Homo sapiens: one gene and its partner. The protein of the gene in region 1 interacts with the protein of each later gene in a pairwise test. Each region holds a gene or a part of one and is shown on either strand. Other genes may lie near its edges.

Region 1 (3,750 bases):
GCCCAAACTGATACCAGGACTTCCTACTTTCCAACGGCTGCTGAGGTTAGGTCATTAAAAATCCAAGAGCCTGAAGCTGCCATTGAGCTGAGGGTTATCAACAACTCCTGAGCCTTTGAGAAAAAAGGAGCCAGCAAACTCTCAAGGGTGGAGGCAGGGCCCAAAGGGAGAGACCCTTACCCAGGGAAGCCACAGCCCCATAATTCTCCAGCATCACATCCCTGTACAGGGCTCTCTGAGCAGGGCCCAGGCCGATCCATTCGTTCTCAGAGAAGTAGACGGCCACATCCTCGAAGGTCACTGACTCCTGAAACAACATGTGTTTAAATGCCCTAGGACAACCCCAGGACCAGGCCAAGAGGAAGGGGAGACAGGGCATCAAAAGGTACTGTGGGGGTGCCTGTGGGGATTCTGGATTCTGAATGTCTACAGGAACTCTATCAGCAGAAGATTTTTGCCTCCTATGTACAAAGAGACAAGGCATCAGCCATCAATTTTCTCATGTCTCTTCATCTTTATTTCAGCAAACATTTTCTCCTCTTTTTCATGAGTCTGCAAAAGTTTTCTTGTTTCATCCTTATACCCCAAACCACATCTGTGCTCTAGGTCCCATCCTCTCTCCACAATGTGTCCTCCTTCAGAGGTCACCCACCCTTGATAACAACTATCATTTATTAAGCCTGTGCCAAGCACTTGACATATATTCTTTGTTATGTCTCATAGCCTACTATCAGATCCGTTTTTTAGAAGAGGAAACTGAGACTCGGAGGGATTAACTTCCCCCAAAGTTCCAGAACTGAGACAGAACCCAGGCCTGTTTGACTCTGGCTCTTGCCTGTTATGCCACACTGCCTTCCGTCCCCATTCCTGCCATCCCTGCTGCCCCTGTATAGGACTCTTCCTCCTTTGTCCTCCCCAGTCACTGCCACCAGCCACAGAGGCAGCTAGGGCTCCTCAGAACATTCAGGTTGCTCTGAACACTGTACTCAACAGGGCAGATCCTCGTTGTGACTTTACTCCCTGCACCCCCACCACCCGCAACACTCTCACAAAGATCCCACCTCACTTGCTTACCCACGTCCCAATCTCCATGTCCCCATTTTCTATATCTCTAGGAGTCTCAGCTCCTGCACCTTCTTTCTCTCATCCTCTTAAGAAACAAATACTGCTGACCTCCAGCCGTTGGGACTTCCCGTAATTCTCAGCCACTGCCTCCTTCAGGGTCTCAGTCTCCACACTGTGGAGGAGCCCATTCTGGTCCACTGCACTTCAGTCCTTGCGCACTAGAAAGTCTCCACAGCTATTTATCCAGCACTCCAGGGCTCCAAGGCTTTGGCTGGCTCAACTTTGTCTGCCTAATAGAGTCCACATTCCTCTGCACTACAGACAATTCCATTCACTACTCACAGACCCAGCTTTCCTGGCCAGGATCATCAGCCACCACCACTCTCATCTCCGATCCTCTCACCATTGCATTGGGAAACCAAACTCTTTCCTCACCCTGTTCTGTGTCCTTGCACCTGCGGCTACTCTTGCCTGAATATCCAGTTCTTCCTTCCTGCTCCTGCATTGCAAATTCCTTTTCAACCTAATACCCAGCTCAAACATAACCAGCTCTGTAAAGGCAGCTCTGAAATTCTGGCCATTCATCGCCCCCGACAGCACTCTGTGCGCTCTGCCCCAGCAGTCGGCTCAACCCCGTGCCGCTGCACGTCTGCTCTCCTTGAGGCTCAGGTCCAGGGGTGTCGACTCCGCTGTGCTGCCTGTCCCTCGAGGCCCCTCACTCTGGGTTGTACCCCCATTTCCCAGCCGCCGCACCACCCCGTCTCCGGGCCTAGAACCCAGGGCAGGGCCAAGACTGCTTCCAGGCTCCGGCCCCGCACTCACCCGGCGCGCCCGGGGCAGCGCGGGCTGTCCCGGGAGCAGCTCGAGGACAAGGCCGAGGCGTGTCCCGCTCGCCAGCGCCACGGCCGCCATAGCCCAGGTCGCCCTCTGGGAAAGCGAGGGCGCGCCAGACCGGACCAGAGGCTGTTGGGGTCGCGGAAGAGCGCTCTGCACCTGGGCAGGCCTGACACGGCTACCCTGCGCCCTGCAGCCACCGGAGTAAGACCCCGACTCCACTCCCTGCCCGCCCCACGCCCGACTCCCCGTGCTCCACACCCGCCAGGCCCCAGCATCCGGGAGGCCGGGGCTCGGGCCGCTCCGGTTGCTCTAGGACGGCGGAGGGCGCCGCATCTCTGTGGTCCTCCTTTCTCGCTCGGGGAGGGAGGGGAGAGCGGTCCGGTTCTCCTGGAGACACGGACGATCCCAGGGACCGCTACCGGGGTAGGGGTGCAGGCGGCTGGGGAGGAATCCTTCCCCTGCGCTCTAGGCCACCCCTTCCTCTCCAGCTCGCTGCACCCTAGGTGGACAGATATTTGCTGATAGGAGGTAGCGGGTACTTCACTAGACTGCACCTGCTCTTTTATCTCTCCTTTTACCAGTTTTTGCATTCCCAGAGCAGACCTGTATTTTATGTCTTTTAACATTCTCATCTTTGTGCCTCTAACATGCGCCCGATGTCTAGCACCTCCTGGGGAGTTATTTCTTTAACTGCCAAGGAATATTTGTAGAATTGTCCACGAAAAGTCAAACTGTAAAATATTTGAAGGGATTTATCCTGAGCCAAATATGAGTGACCATGGCCCGTGCCACAGCCCCAGGAGATCCTGAGAACATGTGCCCAACGTGGTCGGGCTACAACTTGGTTTTACACATTTTAGGAAGACATAAGACATCAATTAATACATGTAAGATGTACGTTGGTTCGGTATGGAAAGGTGGGACAACTGGAAGAGGAGGCTTTCAGGACATAGGTGGATTCAAAGATTTTCTGAGTGGCAATTGGTTGAAAGAGTTAAGTTATTGTATAAAGACTTAGAATCAATAGAAAGGGATGTCTCAGTTAAGATAAGGGCTTGTGGAGACCAAAGTTTTATCATGCAGATGGAGCCTGTAGCAGGCTTCAGAGAATAGACTGCAAATGTTTCTCATCATTATCACACTACCGGATAGTCTGTGAGACTTAAAGAGGCTGTTCTATCAGTCTTAAGGTCTGTGTTGATGTTAATGCTGGTCAGCTGGTCCTGAATTTCAAAAGGTAGGGGAGCATAATGAGCCATGTCCAACTCCTCCTTCCCATTATGGCCTGAACCAGTTTTTCACGTTAACTTTGGAATGCCCTTAGCCAAGAGGAGAGATCCATTCATATGGTCAGAGGGCTTTGAATTTTATTTTTGGCTTACGGAATAAAAGAATGAATAAATGTTGAACCAGTTTTTCAGTTGAAGAAAGTAAGGCCCAAAGAGAGAAAATGGCTTACCTAACATTATGCAACATGCCAGGAAATTAAATTTTTTAAGAAGTGTGAAAATAAAGATTATTCAAATGAGAACAAAGACTATTATTCAGAGCTTGCTATATATGACAAGAGAGTCAGCCCTCATCACTTGCATTCAGCAGACTGAAAGTCAGGCAGAAGAGTGGGGAAAGCTTCACAGTGGAAAAAAGGAATGGCTTCAGGTATTCCCTTATTGGAAGTTGCTGGCATGGGGAAACTACAGGCGGGCTAACTAGAAGCAGGGAATCTTATGTAATTGGTAGGGGGAAATTTTTGGCTTTCTCTGTTTGGTCCTAAGTTGGAAGTAGTATGGGAAAAAGTAGGGAATCTGATAGTTTTTAATCAAATTGCTACCCCATCTCTACAAAAAT
Region 2 (3,650 bases), on another chromosome or scaffold:
AACTCATTTAAAATCACTCACACACAATAGGAAATTAATCTGCTTTCTAAAACTATTCCTCGCAGGCTGTAGGGTCCTGATGGCCCAAGGGGCACTGGCTGCCTGGAAAGCACCAGCTGGTTAGAGAATTGAGCCTTTGGGAATCCTGGGGAACCAGGACCACATGACCTGTTTGGCAACTGCCGCACACTGGCCACGGAAGCCACAGTCCTGATTCTTTCCCCATAAAGCAGGTCTAAATGCCTGGCAATAGGGAACTAGTTAAATAAATAATGGTACAACTGAACAATAAGATATTGCACAGCCATTAAAAACACATTCCACAAGTTTTTTAATAGCATGGGAAAATATTCAGAATGTAACTAACACTAAGTGGAAAAAGATGCAGGTTACCAAACTCTGTAGATTCAATGATATGAAAGAAAAAAAAGCAAATAGTATATATTCTAGATTCTAGACTATAGCCCCTTAGATAGACATTACTATCCATGCAGCTAAATCCACAAAGCAGGGACAGAGGGGGAGTGTGTATAAATAAATGTATATATACATACATTATATATACGCATACACATATATATATACACACACCAACATATATGTACATAGGATCATATATATCATAAAAAGAAAATTTAAGAATCGTTACTTTTCTTCCCTCTGGGCTGTGGGTGAATTTTGTTTACTACTTTATCCTTTTTTAATCATTTTCCAAATCTCCTTACATTTTCCAAATATAATGTATTAATACACGAATATCTTAATAAGGTGGAGAAAAATAACCTTTTAAAAATTGTTTAGCAAGCAACGCCAGATGAGTAGGCTTTTCAACGCAGACTCGTGTGCAGACAGCCCAGCCCAACCCAATAGCCTGCAGCCAGGACCCAGCACCCGGAGCCCAGCGACACAGGGAGCCCCCCAGCGTCCCCATCACGCACCCAGAGCCCAGCGATGCAGGGAGCCCCCCAAGCATCCCCCTCACGCACCATGCAGCGCAGCCACAGGAAGCAGCAAGAGGGGGAGGGAGTGTGCAGCCTGGAACCTCTCTCAGGAGCCACTTCAGCCTTTCCACCTTGAAACGCTTCCTAGGAAAATTTGTCCCACTAGCAATTTGGGAGATAAAGCCAACTACGACAAGGGGCCACACTGCACCACACCTGCCCACTACTGCCCCCACCTACTCATCAGACGGCTCCAGGGAGCTAAATACAGACTCATGGAGAGAGGTTCTCCTTAAAAAAAAAAAATGCCGACACACACTCCCTGCAGAGACAGCTGTTTCGTACACTGACGGGGTGAGGATAACCTCACAGACAAACAGGCATGCAGAGACTTGACAAATAGTCCCTGCCTACTTGGAAGAAACAAAGTTCATGTCTAAAGAAACTAAACTCAGAGTACATATGTGGAGTTTAAATTCCAACCACGCATACAGAGACCAAGAGCCCCAGGAGAAAGGCTCTGACAAATGTCATTTCTCCCTGTTGCACACTGTCCTACTTCGACGACAAACAGCCAGATTGTCTCTTTCCTCACTGGGTTAGGTCTGATTTTTGAGCTTCAACACATTTGCAAGTTTGAAATCATCCTTCCCACTCTCCCAAGGTCACAGGCCTGTGCCTCTTCTGGGGCCAAGGCCATATCCTATTTGCCACGGTAGCCCTCATATAATAGGCTCCATCTGTCTGGCTAGTCCCAGAGTCCCTGACACCTGCTTCTCCTAGAAACCTCAGGGACAACCAGGCAGGCCCCACAAATGCCTGCAGCTCTCAGCACGTGTGAACCTCAGATTCCTGGCCTCACACATCACAGTGGCAGGCAAGCCCCTAAACCTGTACTGCAGACAGTGCCCGGAACCCAGCAGAAAGGGAGCACCATTGGATGCCAAGAAGAATCTGGCACCTGGGCCACGGGGGTGTACAAAAGCAGCAACTAGGAGATGGCTCCTCAAGCAGGTTGAGGATGGGATTCTGGCATTTTCAAGTGCACCGTAAGGAACAACAGGTTCATCCCACTGTTCCACTGCCAAGACAACCAAAGCAAGAGAAGGTCCAGCCATTAGCCTAGGCTCACCTAGTGAGCCACTGATGGGGAAGTCGGGGCCACAGCTGCCTCCAGATGCCCAGGCCAGGACCCTTTTCTAGTCTCCTCCTGGTCAGAGGCCACCTAGCAGCCCTCAGAAGCAACCACTTCGGCACTCCAATGCAGGCCGGCTCTAATGGGAAAAGTAAGTGGTGCAGCCCAGACTATAAAGAGAGAACCGGTAAATTTCTACATGGGCAGAAATGGAACGCTTAATGTGAAGGTGGGTGGAGTAGAGAGGGAACATCAATCCACCAGGGTCTCACCTAGCGCCTCTCTCCTGACTCAAAAAGTAGAAAGTTAAAGAACAGAGAGAGAAGAAAGCTGGCCTTCTAGATGGGATGACAGGTCTAGTGAAGTCCTTCAGAGGCCTGCAAAGCTGTGCATGGGGAAAAGATTTGCAAGAGAAGAGACTCTATATTCAACAGATTCAGTTTCAGGGAGCAGCAAAGAGCCACAGGGCAATGTCCCAGTGCACAAGACAGGACTGAAGGAAGAGTGATGGGGCAGGCTTGAAGATACAGATCTGGGAATCATATATGTAAAAAAAAGGTTCCAGAGCTATAAAATTTCATGATCTTACCACCACAGACTAGTTAAGGAGGCTGAAATATAGAGAATCCAGCTAAGAAAAAGTGCTAAGGTCAGTTGTAAAATGTCAGTGGAAGAAGTGAAAAGGGGGAAGAGCCAAGGCACACTTAGAAGCTACTCAGGACAATAAATCCAAAGCAGCTGAGATGAAGGATGGAAACATTAACTCTGTCAAAGCAGCAAGGATCAGGACACTGGAGAGGGCAGGAGGGTGGGCTCAAGCTATCCAGAAGAGCCTGCAGGCAGGCACACGCCACACCTGAGTCTCCTATTTCAGTGGATGAGTGTGGGCTCAGAGCAGCTCCAGCCTGCTCCAGTTCTCAGCCCAGGCTCTGCAAACTGCAAAGCAGTTCTGAAATGTAAGGCAGATCTTACACACGTCCCCATGTACCATTCCATTTTAACTGGGGACTCCATGCGTGAGCGCAGAGGTGAGGGAATGCTCACACTGGTGCCTGACTTGAGAAAACAGAAGCAACTGGGTAACGGGAAGACCCCCAGTCCCAGGAAGACAGTCAAAGGTGATCCCAGGGCCTGACAGTGACCTCAAACCCCCATCGCCAGACTCTGAAATCAACACTACAGCGCCCTAGCCCATCTCAGGCGTGCCACCTGGCATGCTACTCCCAGCCACCCCAGGACCACTGCAACTAATTTGTTCTTGTTTCTCACAGCTGAACTAATAACGGCATACAGTCAAGTCGAACAGGACCGTGAAAGTTCACTGATGGGCTGTAAGTTGGTTAAAGCTGAGTCAGCCCCATGCAGTTAGTAAAACCAGATTGTTAATGTGTCTTCCACCACACACCAGGATTAAGAAAGAATGAAAAAGAGCACAGCAAACAAATTCAGTTACCCATGAACAACGTGGGAAATATGACTTTTTCTTGCCTAATAAAAGAAAGGAGAACATATTAAACAGTAATACGAATACTATTTCCACATCACGCCCTAAAATTAGTCCATGCCCACCTACA

What was found. The genes of interacting proteins can lie anywhere in the genome.
Region 2: the proteins of ZNF662 (region 1) and NDEL1 interact in binary tests that used the Homo sapiens proteins (3 or more experiments, as listed by UniProt).

What each region holds. Positions count from the first base shown.
Region 1 is NC_000003.12:42,904,579-42,908,328, reverse strand, and holds the start of ZNF662 (zinc finger protein 662), read right to left. Parts: upstream 2,188-3,750; 5' UTR 2,161-2,187; exon of another isoform or gene 1,978-2,160; coding exon of another isoform or gene 1,888-1,977; intron 308-1,887; coding exon of another isoform or gene 215-307; coding exon 181-214; intron 1-180. UniProt on the Homo sapiens protein: May be involved in transcriptional regulation.
Region 2 is NC_000017.11:8,463,234-8,466,883, reverse strand, and holds part of NDEL1 (nuclear distribution protein nudE-like 1), read right to left. Parts: intron 3,565-3,650; coding exon of another isoform or gene 3,530-3,564; intron 1-3,529. UniProt on the Homo sapiens protein: Required for organization of the cellular microtubule array and microtubule anchoring at the centrosome. May regulate microtubule organization at least in part by targeting the microtubule severing protein KATNA1 to the centrosome.